Regions from separate parts of the Homo sapiens genome. Here region 1 is linked to region 2. Evidence: fine-mapped expression QTL. A gene starts in region 2. The other region holds a variant in brackets. All regions are shown on one strand. Distances are between the middles of the regions.

Region 1 (5,378 bases), 26 kb after region 2:
AGACCATCCTGGCTAACACAGTGAAACCCCATCTCTACTAAAAATACAAAAAAAATTAGCCGGGTGCGGTGGCGGGCGCCTGTAGTCCCAGCTGCTCGGGAGACTGAGGCAGGAGAATGGCATGAACCCAGAAGGCAGAGCTTGCAGGGAGCCGAAATCGTGCCACTGTACTCCAGCCTGGGTGACAGAGCGAGACTCCGTCTCAAAAAAAAAAAAAAAAACCTTTTTAGACTTGTTTTATTTTTATTTTTTTTTATTTGTAATTTAACTGGCTTGGAGATTTGCTGTCAATAAAGTCCTCAGCACTTTCCAAATTGTTACTCTGAGATTATTTGAAATCAACATTAGGACAAGGACATGTCTTTAACTGATTACCTAGTATTTCTCCTTTATTTGTCAGCTGGAAAAGTTGATAGCTGGTGAGAGAAAGGAAACAATAAAGTAATGTGCATTTGACATTGCTAATTATTTTGCTTTTTTGTTTATAGGCGAGCGATATGTGATGACATTTTTGAATGTATTGAACTTTGGTGATCAGGGTAAGATGAAATTCTGTAGTGTTTTAATTAAAGGTGAACACTATTAATAGATACTTCCTAATATTTTTCTCTGATATATTTAATGAAAGATGAACCTGAAGATTAAAGAAAATCCTGAAGATTGTAAATTGTAGGTCTTTGTACTGACTATGCCCTCCAACATGACTTTGGTGTCAGGTATTCTGGTGAGACCCCGGCCCTCTATTTTGCCTCCTGAGAGCTCTGGTGTTCATTTTGGGAGGTGGGAGGTGCCAAGAGAGGAGAAAAGGGAGCTCACTGTCACAGCCACAAAAATCTGCCCCATGTTTGTGTGGCTAGATAGTCTTTCAGTATTTTCATTTTTATCTTTTAATGTAATCCCAAAGTAACTGAAATCAAATAGAAAAACATCAACTTTGCATTAATGACCTGTATAAGAAAGTACTGTTGATGGAAGCATTCTGTATCTTGACTGTATCATCGTTGGTATCCTGGTTGTGATATTGTACTATAGTTTTACAAAATGTTACCACTGGGTAAAGGGTATATATGGGATCCCTCTATTACTTCCTATTTTTTTGTCTTTTTTATTTATTTTTTATTTTTTGAGACAGGGTCTCATTCTATTGCCCAGGCTGGAGTGCAGTGGTACCATCACAGCTCACTGCAGCCTCAACCTCCTGGGCTTGGGTGATCCTCCCACCTCAGCCTCCCAAATAACTGGGACTACAAATGCACACCACCACGCCTGGCTAAATTTTTCCATTTTTGTAGAGACAGGGTTTTTCCGTGTTTCCCAGGCTCATCTCAAACTCCCTGGCTCAAGCAGTCCACCCACCCTGGCCTCCCAAAGTGCTGGGATTATAGGCATGAGCCACCGTGCCTGGCCACTATTACTTCTTATAACTCTGTGTGAATCTATAATTATCTCAAGATAAACAAACTTTAATGAAAATATTAAATAATTTTAATAGTGCTATAAAAATTAAAATAGAAAAACCAACATGATTGTTGTTTCTTCTTTTTTGTTTTGTAGGTGTGTATGATATAGTGAATAATCTTGGCTCCCTTGTGGCCAGATTAATTTTCCAGCCAATAGAGGAAAGTTTTTATATATTTTTTGCTAAGGTGCTGGAGAGGGGAAAGGATGCCACACTTCAGAAGCAGGTAATGTTGGTTCTTATGTCATCTCTCAAGTGAATTCTCCCTTTAATTGCAAGACAGACAGGAGTGTGAAGCAGTCTGTTTCTCTTCTGTTTGATCAGGAATTTTCTTATAGATTTCATTCTTCTATTACATTCTTCATGATAGTGGGACCCAGGGCTCACCTCTTCTTTCGTGGCCTTCTTGCTTTGCTCTTGGCTGTCCCTTCCTTCTCACACCTTTGTTATTCGTTGTGACCTTACTCTTTTTGGGGGGGGGGGCGGGGATAGAGTCTTGCTCTGACGCCCAGCCTGGAGTGCAGTGGCATGACCTCGGCTCACTGCAACCTCCACCTCCCAGGTTCAAACGATTCTCCTGCCTCAGCCTCCTGAGTAGCTGGGACTACAGGCATGCGCCACCACACCCAGCTAATTTATGTATTTTTAGTAGAGATGGGGTTTTGCCATGTTGGCCAGGCTGCTCTTGAACTCCTGACTTCAGGCAGTCTGCCCACCTCAGCCTCCCAAAGTGCTAGGATTACAGGTGTGAGCCCCCATACCTGGCCATGTGACCTTACTCTTGATCCAGCCCTCTCAGGACTCTAAAGCTGTCCCCATTGCCCTGCAGATGCCCAGCCATGGGCTAGTCTTAGGCGTAAGAATGCTTCCCTTATCCTCAGAGTCTCAAGAGCCAAAGGATGCAGAAGTTGGAGCCAGGCTAATCAAGGGCATAGGGAGGAGAGGAAGTGGTTGTTGGCTTTCGCTCACCACACCAATTATTTAAGCTTCTTACAACTGGGACATGCCCAGAGCTACACTCTGACTGTAAGATTCTGTATACTCGGGTTGGTAAATACAGAAGAAGAGATTTTAATCTAGGAGTATTTTGTTGTAGGAGCTTCACTTTTTCCAAAACCACTGAAAATGTCTGACTTTTCTTAGAATAGCAAGCTAGTTCAGCCTCTTGCTTGTCTTAGAAGAAATTTAGTAAAATACAGTTTATGCACAATATCTCAAAATGAGCTAATCTGGTACTCAGTCTGATTTAGGAATATTTTCCTAAGAGTACCTTCACAGTATCATCATAATTTTGGAATGTTTAGCAGGAGAAGCACAGAGCTGGCTAGTGTATATGAAAACTTGCTGCACATTTAAGAATAAATATTAGTGGTCTGGTGCAGTGGCTCATGCCTGTAAGCCTCACGCTTTGGGAGGCCAAGGCAGGAGGATTGCTTGAGGCCAGGAGTTTGAGATTAGCCTGGTCAACATAGTGAGACTCCCTTCTCTATTTCTATTTAAAAAAAAAAAAAAGAACAAATATCAGAGGGGAAAGTGAGTGTTTCCTAAGCAATATTTGAAACAATTTATCCCAAGTGAATTGAAAACTAACCCTCCCCCTTACGACCTAAGGAGACACACACTTTTTCCTTCATTTGCTAACTGACGTGAAAACAAACAC[A/G]CTACAAAAAAATAGTGATATCCATCACGCTGTTGGAAGAGTGAACTGTAAAACAGTGAAGGGAGAAGGCCAGACGTGAAGGATGAAGGTTTTCTTCAGCTCATGATTCATCCAACTTCCTTCCCTCTTCCCTGGCCCCAGGAGGACGTTGCTGTGGCTGCTGCAGTCTTGGAGTCCCTGCTCAAGCTGGCCCTGCTGGCCGGCCTGACCATCACTGTTTTTGGCTTTGCCTATTCTCAGCTGGCTCTGGATATCTACGGAGGGACCATGCTTAGCTCAGGATCCGGTACGCACAAGAGTTTTTCTGGATTTTTTCTGATTTCCCAACATAAATAGAAGAGTCACGAAATTCAAGAACTTGTGCACACACAGTTGTTATCTGTGTCAGTGTAGGGAAAACTGTCTGGTGGCAGGGGCTGTGGGACTGTTCCCCTCGTTCAACTCCAGACACACACTCAAGGTATAGGCAGGGGCGTTGGCGCCAGGACAATCAGCTTCCCCAGCCTCACTTGGAGAAGTTATTAGGACTTCTCCTTGCTGTTGGCTTTCCTCTCGGGCCTAGAATGTGTTTTGCCAAGCGCTTCCCTGTGCTCCCTCTGGGGTGAGGGAGGAAGGCAGAGGGCAGACGGTAATGAGTCTCCACTTGGTACTAAACACATCTGAAGATAGTAAATGCCACATAAATCTCCCAGCCTAGTGCATAAAAGCCTCTGAAGGATAACCCAAAGCCATTTGCAGAGAATAAAATTGATCTCTGCAAATAAAATGGTATATTTAATCCAGTGACTCTCAGTTTTTGAAGAAGAAAAGTATTGAATGTGTCTAATTTTGAAACACCAGGCCGCTGAGGATCTCACAGCACTTGTTAGGTCTTGGGGACTTCATCAATTTCAAAATGTGCTGGGCTGTAAGCTGGCAGTCCATTTGCAGTGCTTCATCTTGGGTTTAGCAAAGATGTTTTTAATTTCTCAGGTCGCTGGACAAGAACGCTGAGGACTTCTTTCTGCTGCCCCATCTCAATATAAAGGGCTTTGTCAAATGCCATTTTACAAGTTCACTAGCATGTTTTAGTCTCCACTACAATGGGGCCCAAACTTTTGGTGTTAGGGGAGGAAGGGCCAGGTTTCTATACCAGAGCAAAGGTCATTAAGTTTGGAGAAACACCTGCTGTGAAACCAGTGAAGTGGTTTGCAGCTCCCTGGGGCTTGTGCTGTGAGAAGTGTATTTCCATCTGGCAGCTGTGGGGAGGCCTCATGAGGAAGGCATTAGTAAGTTTATGGGCAGAGATTGGGAACTCGACTATTCTGTAGCAGCTCTTCCCCTTTAGAAAGCAATCACCAAGGAGCAGCCTCTAATGTCACACAATCACAGGGCGTTGCCTCAAGGAGGGGGCTGTCCCATCATTATCATGACTCAGCCCATCATCTTAGTTTTGAAAGTGGAACTCGCAACACTGCTGTCCCCAGTTGTGTACTTGTCTTTGTCTTCACCCTGGAAGTGGACTACTTACCTGTGAGCTGTACTGGCCATCTCCAGATGTGGGACTCGGACACAGCACGGACAGGCTTTTGTGTAGGGGTGTGGCTTCTCTTCCGTTGTTTGGGATTAGCCCTGCATTTAATTAGGGTCTTTGTAAGTGTTCTAGAGGCTTTTCTTAGAAATCCTTCTCACACCTAGCTTTGCTTTGCTTTTTCTTTTCTTTTCTTTTTTCTTGGTAACTCACAGAACAACACCTAGCTTTTCTATCCTTAAGCAAAACCCACACATTCACAGAATTTCCCCAAGATTTCTTACATTTCTCTCTTAGGTGCTTCTCTCTTGTCCCTCTGCCTTTTACTTTTTTCCTTCTCTATCCCCTTGTCTTAATGAACTAGGGCTGCCATGACAAAGTACCACAGACTGCGTGGCTTTAAACAACAGAACATATTGTCCGTCAGTTCTGGAGGCCAGAAGTGCACAATGAAGCTATGGCCAGGGCCGTGTTCTCTCTGAAGGCTCGAGGAGAGGCCCCTTCCTACCTCTTCTAGTTGCTAATGGTTGCTGGCATCCTGGCGTTCCTTGACTTGCAGCTGCAGTACTGCGGTCACATGGCTGTGTTCTCTCTGTCTTCACGTCATCATCCCCCTTGCGCTCTTCACGTCATCATCTCCCTGCACGTGTCTGCCTCAATGCAAGTTTCCCCCACTTTTTTTTTTTTTTAGTGAGATGAAGTCTCACTCTATCACCCAGGCTGGAGTACAGTGGTGTGATCTCGGCTCA
Region 2 (5,378 bases):
TAGCATCTCAGCCATTATGCCAAATACCTGGACCCTCCAGCACTTTCTCTATTCTCCAAGTACACTCCTCCCCAGGTGGGTGCCCAACTCACTCATCCTAAAACAGCACCCCTCTCTCTCTTCCAAAGCCTCTAGGATCTTACCTGGTTTCATTCTTTCGTAGCACTTAGCCCTATGTGAAATTTTATTTGTTTGTTAGAGTTTTTTTCAGTTTCCCTTTCACTAGAATTTAAGCTCTCTGAGGGCCAGACTTGCCTGAAACAATCCTTATGACTATTTTTACAGGACAGATAATATCCCTATTTAGTAGCTGAGCATACTGAGGTCACCCAGTCAGTGAGTGGCAGAATGAGGATTCAAGGTCAGTTCTCTCTGACAGACAAAAGCTCACATTCTTGGGCAGGGTGCAGTGCGGTGGCTCATGCCTGTAATCTCGGCACTTTGAGAAGCTGAGGTGGGCGGATCACTTGAGTCCAGGAGTTGGAGACCAGCCTGAGCAACGTGGGAAAAACCCATCTCTACAAAAATCACAGAAAAAATCAGCCAGGTCTGGTGCTGCACGCCTGTAGTCCCAGCTAATCGGAAGGCTGAGGTGGGAGGATTACCTGAGGCCAGGAGGTGGAAGCGGCAGTGAACCAAGACTGTACCACTGCACCCTAGCCTGGGAGACAGAGCGAGACCCTGTCTCAAAAAAAAAAAAGAAAAGAAAAGAAAAGAAAAGAAAAGAAAAAGAAAAGCTCACATTCTGGGCCTCCACACTAAGACAGAGCTCATTTCACCTGGGAAGATGGGAGTGATAGGCTTTGAGTTCCACAGTCTGTTTCCAGCAGCAGTAGCAGCAGTCATGTGTCAGGAGACATTTATAGGAGCCCTAAGAATGTTCTGTACCGCTACTTCAGGAAGCAAAACCAGGCAGGCTGCACTTCTGCCCTCTTGGAGCTCATGGGCTGATTATATAGAGACACATATTCTAGTCTTTCTGCTATAATGCAGATTGCATTAGGAACTATAAAGGGGTACAGAGTATTTTAGGGGTACTGTCTTGATTTGCTTGGGCTGCTGTAACAAAATACCATAGACTGGGTAAGTCAAAAACAGAAATTTCTCTCACAGCTCTGGAGGCTGGAAGCCCAAGATCAAGGTGCTAGCCAGTTTGGTTCCTGTTAAGTGTATGTTGGGCGCCTTACATTTTACAAAGCCTTCTTCGTGGTTGCAGACAGCTACATTCTTGCTGTATCCTCAAATAGTAAACACAGAGATCATTTTTCTGACATCTCTTTTTATAAGGACATGAATCCCATTATGACGGCTCCACTTTCAGGACCTAATTACTTCCCAAAGGCCTTACCTCCTAATACTATCACACTGGGGATTAGGCTTCAACATATGAATTTTGAGGGTACACAAACATTTAGTCCACAGCAGGTACCAGCTGTGGTTGGCCAGGAAAGTCAGGACAGTGTGGTCTAGGAGGGCAAGGGGTGCTGTCAGGGAAGACACTTTGGACAAAGAGGGTGGAGGAGCAAAGGCCAGTGAGTCACCGCCTGTTTGAGGACCAGTAAGGACTCGGAATGGCTATGGCCTAGATAGTGTTGGGAAGGGCAATGATCGTGTGAAAGGTAGTAGAAGATAGGTTGGGGCCAAATCATGTGAGGACTGAAAGAGATTGGGGAAAGACTGGGCTTCCTACAGCCTGCTTGGTAGATAATAAGAACACTGACAGAACAGCAGCTGATTGTGTATGTTGGGCGCTTTACATTTTTTTACAAAGCACTTCCAGTCCTTCTTCCACTCTGCCCTCACAATTTCTAGCATACAGGCAAGAGTGATAAGTTTAGGATCAGGAGCCTGGTATCCACTTAGTCAGGAAACAAGTTGTGTAGATTCGAACAAGTCACTTCCCATCTCCAAGGCTTTACTCATCTCTAACCACAGGGGCCAATTCTCAGAGCTTTCGGAAGGATTTCACAAAACCATACACATAACAGTGCTATATCTAACTTCTGGTCCTCAGTTCTTTCTCTGTTAAATGAGGACAATTCCTGTCCAGCCTAATTCAGAGGGTCTGTGGCTGTGATTCTGTAAGCAAAGGTCAATGGTGAGAATCTTCTTAACGGGCCAGTGAGAAGTTTGTTCCCCTTTTGGCAGATGAGGCCAGGAAAGTTAGTGCTTCTTGGTTGGTGGCTGAAAGCCTCAGAGAAGGAACTTTGGATTCTTTAACGGTATCTCTTAGTACTCGCCACACTATTTCGTTTATACGGGGAAGAGAGGGACAGACAGCGCACAAGCGACAGACAGCGCAAAACCTACCGAAATAGAAAGAGCCAGGCGCCATAACAGACGGCCCGAGACAGGCCCACTTAAAGGACCAGAACTTCTCGTGCCCCGCCCCCCTCTCTCAAGGCCATCAATCAGACAGCGAGGCGCGCCGTGACGCCATCTTATCGCGACTAAACGGAGTGGCGGCGGCATTTCCTGGTGTCTGAGCCTGGCGCGGAGGCTATGGGCAGCCAGGAGGTGCTGGGCCACGCGGCCCGGCTGGCCTCCTCCGGTCTCCTCCTGCAGGTACTCTCTGCCCTTCAGGTTCCAGCTTGTACTGCAGCCGGGATTCGCGGGATGGCAGCCCTTGGGCCCTTGAGAGCCTGCCCCAGGGCCGACCCAGTCCCGAGGTGGACCCCGCAATGGAGGGGGTGGGGGGGTCGACCGGAGACGGTGGCATTGATGAGGGGGGACCCTGGCCCGGAGATAGGAGCCTGCCTTTAGAGTCTAGGCCGGGTGACTGCAGACAAGCCGCTTTCCTTCTGAGCATTCTATTTCCCATATGGCAGTAGGAGTGAATTAGATCAGGTGGCGGGGGTGAGGGACTGGTATTTCGTGCTCGAGAATCTGATATTTTTCAGGCAAGGGGTTCATTTCCTTCATCAAACACCTTCCTCAAACTTTGAGTCCCACTGAGTTCCGAGAGTCCATATGGCATAGCTAAGAAGAGAAATCTGGAGTTAGGCTTGGATTGCTCCGTGACCCAGGACAAGTGACTTCACCTGCAGAGCCTGAGTTCCTCACTAGTAAAATGGGGGTAATAATATGTCGTACTTAGCTCATAAGCAGGGATTGATTGGGATCATTCAAATAAACGTACTTAACACAGTACCCGGCTCTTAGTATGCATTTAATACATGTTGGCTGCATCTTCTGTTTATGTGATCTTGGACAAGTCACTTCCCTTCTTGGCCCTAATTTTTGTCATCTGTCAGGTATGATACAGGCCAGTTAGTCCAAATGGTATCTGAAGATTCTTTCAACCCCAGGAGCTGAACCTCTTAAGTCAAGTGGCTCAGTATCTCTCTGTCTCACTCTTGAGCCAATCAACCCTACTTCACACAAGTCCCGAATCTACCCTACCCCTTATCTTAGAGAGGCACATGGAGGGCAGAAGAAAGAACCAAGCAGAATGGGGCTTGAGTTTGGGCCTTGTCACTTGCTAGATGCCTGCCTTCGGGATAAATCCGATGACTTCTGTATCAGTTTCTTCATCTTAAATGAGAATCATAGTGCAACCTCACAGGGTCATTAGGAAGATTAGATGAAATCATGCCTCTTAAGTGCCTGGCACACTACAAGTACTTAATAAATGTAGCTATTTTTATTAGGGTAATAAGTATTTTTAAAATAGTCAATGTAGGAATGAAATGAGATAACCTATGGAAAGCATGTTGAAGAGTGCCTTGCACGTGATATGTGCTTAGTAAATGTTAGCCATTCTAAGTTTACCTAGGGATTTTTTTTTTCTGTTTCACTACATAAATAACTGAGTTTATTGTTTTATCCACAATGTTGGTTTTTTTTCAGCCTTTGATAATATCTTACTACTCAGATAGGCTTCATAAAACGAAAACAAGTTATAACGGAAAACACACTGGACTACGAGTCAGGTGGCTTACCTGTAAGGTCAAGCTGGGTCATTTACTTGCCGTGTGACAGTGAGGAAATCACTTAACCCTCAGTCTTGCTTCCTGTGCATTTACCTCGTTGTTTTTAGTGTCAAATAATTTAACAGATGTGAGAGAGCCTTTTTGTTAAAACTGTAAAGTTGGCTGGACGCGGTGGCTCATGCCTGTCATCCCAGCACTTTGGGAGGCCAAGGCAGGAGGATTGCTTGAGCTCAGGAGTTGAAGACCAGCCTGGGCAACATGGTGAAACCTTGTCTTTACAAAAAATACAAAAATTAGATGGGCGTGGTGGCATGCACCTGTAGTCCCAGCTACTCAGGAGGCTGAGGTGGGATGATCTCGAGTCTGTGAGGTTGAGGCCTCAGTGAGCTGTGATTATGCCACTGCACTCCAGCCTGAGCAACAGAGTGAGACCCTGTCTTAAAACAAAAGCTGTAAAGTTCTTTGCAGAAGTAAATGAAGGCTGTGTTGCTAATAAGGACTGCAGTGTGTGGCAAATACTGGGTGGCGTAAGCAACCTCAGTTTCATTAGCTGCAACCTTTATTCAAACCAATTAGGAGACATGGATATGGCCTGGAACATTAAGTTTCTTAGACAGTGGTAACTTTGAGGTTAACATAAGTATGTACACATGGTGTTTTGTTTTTTGTTTTCGAGATGGAGTCTCACTCTGTTGCTCAGGCTGGAGTGCAGTGGCACTATCTCGGCTCACTGCAACATCCGCCTCCCGGGCCCAAGAGATTCTCAGGCCTCAGCCTCCCAAGTAGCTGGGATTACAGGTACCTGCCACCACACCTGGCTAATTTTTGTATTTTTAGTAGAGACAGGGTTTCACCATGTTGGACAGGCTGGTCTCGAACTTCTGACCTCAAGTGATCCACCTGCCTCAGCCTCCCGAAGTGCTGGCATTACAGGTGTGAGCTACCGCGCTCGGATTTTTTTTTTAATAACCATATTTTTATATGGTTTCTTGAGTGTTTTCATTCTTGTATGCTTTCTCGAATTACACTGTAGACACTTCAGGTAGCTTTGTGGTTACATTTTATTCTGCAAGAATTTGAGAGCTTGTTCTATCTTAATTCTAAGCCACCTATGCTGAAAGTATTAATGCCTTTCATTTGTATGCACTTAAAAAATGCTTTCACTTCTACAGTCTCATTTCTTTTAAAAATATTTCTTGTAGAGATGAGGTCTCACTGTGTTGCCCAGGCTGGTCTCAAATTCCTGGCTTCAAGTGATCCTCCTACCTTTCAGCCTCCCAAAGTGTTGGGATTTTCTTTTCTTTTTTTTTTTTTTTTTAAGATGGAGTCTAGCTCTGTCGCCCAGGCTTCACGCCATTCTCCTGCCTCAGCCTCCCGAGTAGCTGGGACTTACAGGCACCTGCCACCACACCCAGCTAATTTTTTGTATTTTTAGGAGAGGCGGGG

Evidence for each region.
Region 1: its variant is fine-mapped to the expression of RFT1 in whole blood (INTERVAL, PIP 0.90).

Annotation. Positions count from the first base shown.
Region 1 is chr3:53,101,980-53,107,357 of GRCh38, reverse strand. RFT1 (RFT1 glycolipid translocator homolog) reads left to right here. Exons shown (of 13, transcript NM_052859.4): 8 at 489-539; 9 at 1,555-1,685; 10 at 3,261-3,405. Among named protein-coding and RNA genes, the nearest start is that of RFT1, 26 kb to the left of the region's middle. RefSeq lists enhancers at 4,042-4,543, 4,543-4,592. The variant A/G (reference allele first, on the strand shown) is at 3,120.
Region 2 is chr3:53,127,525-53,132,902 of GRCh38, reverse strand. RFT1 (RFT1 glycolipid translocator homolog) reads left to right here and starts at 2,468. Exons shown (of 13, transcript NM_052859.4): 1 at 2,468-2,565. The coding sequence starts at 2,503. RefSeq lists enhancers at 2,063-2,112, 2,123-2,322, 2,363-2,412, 2,423-2,612.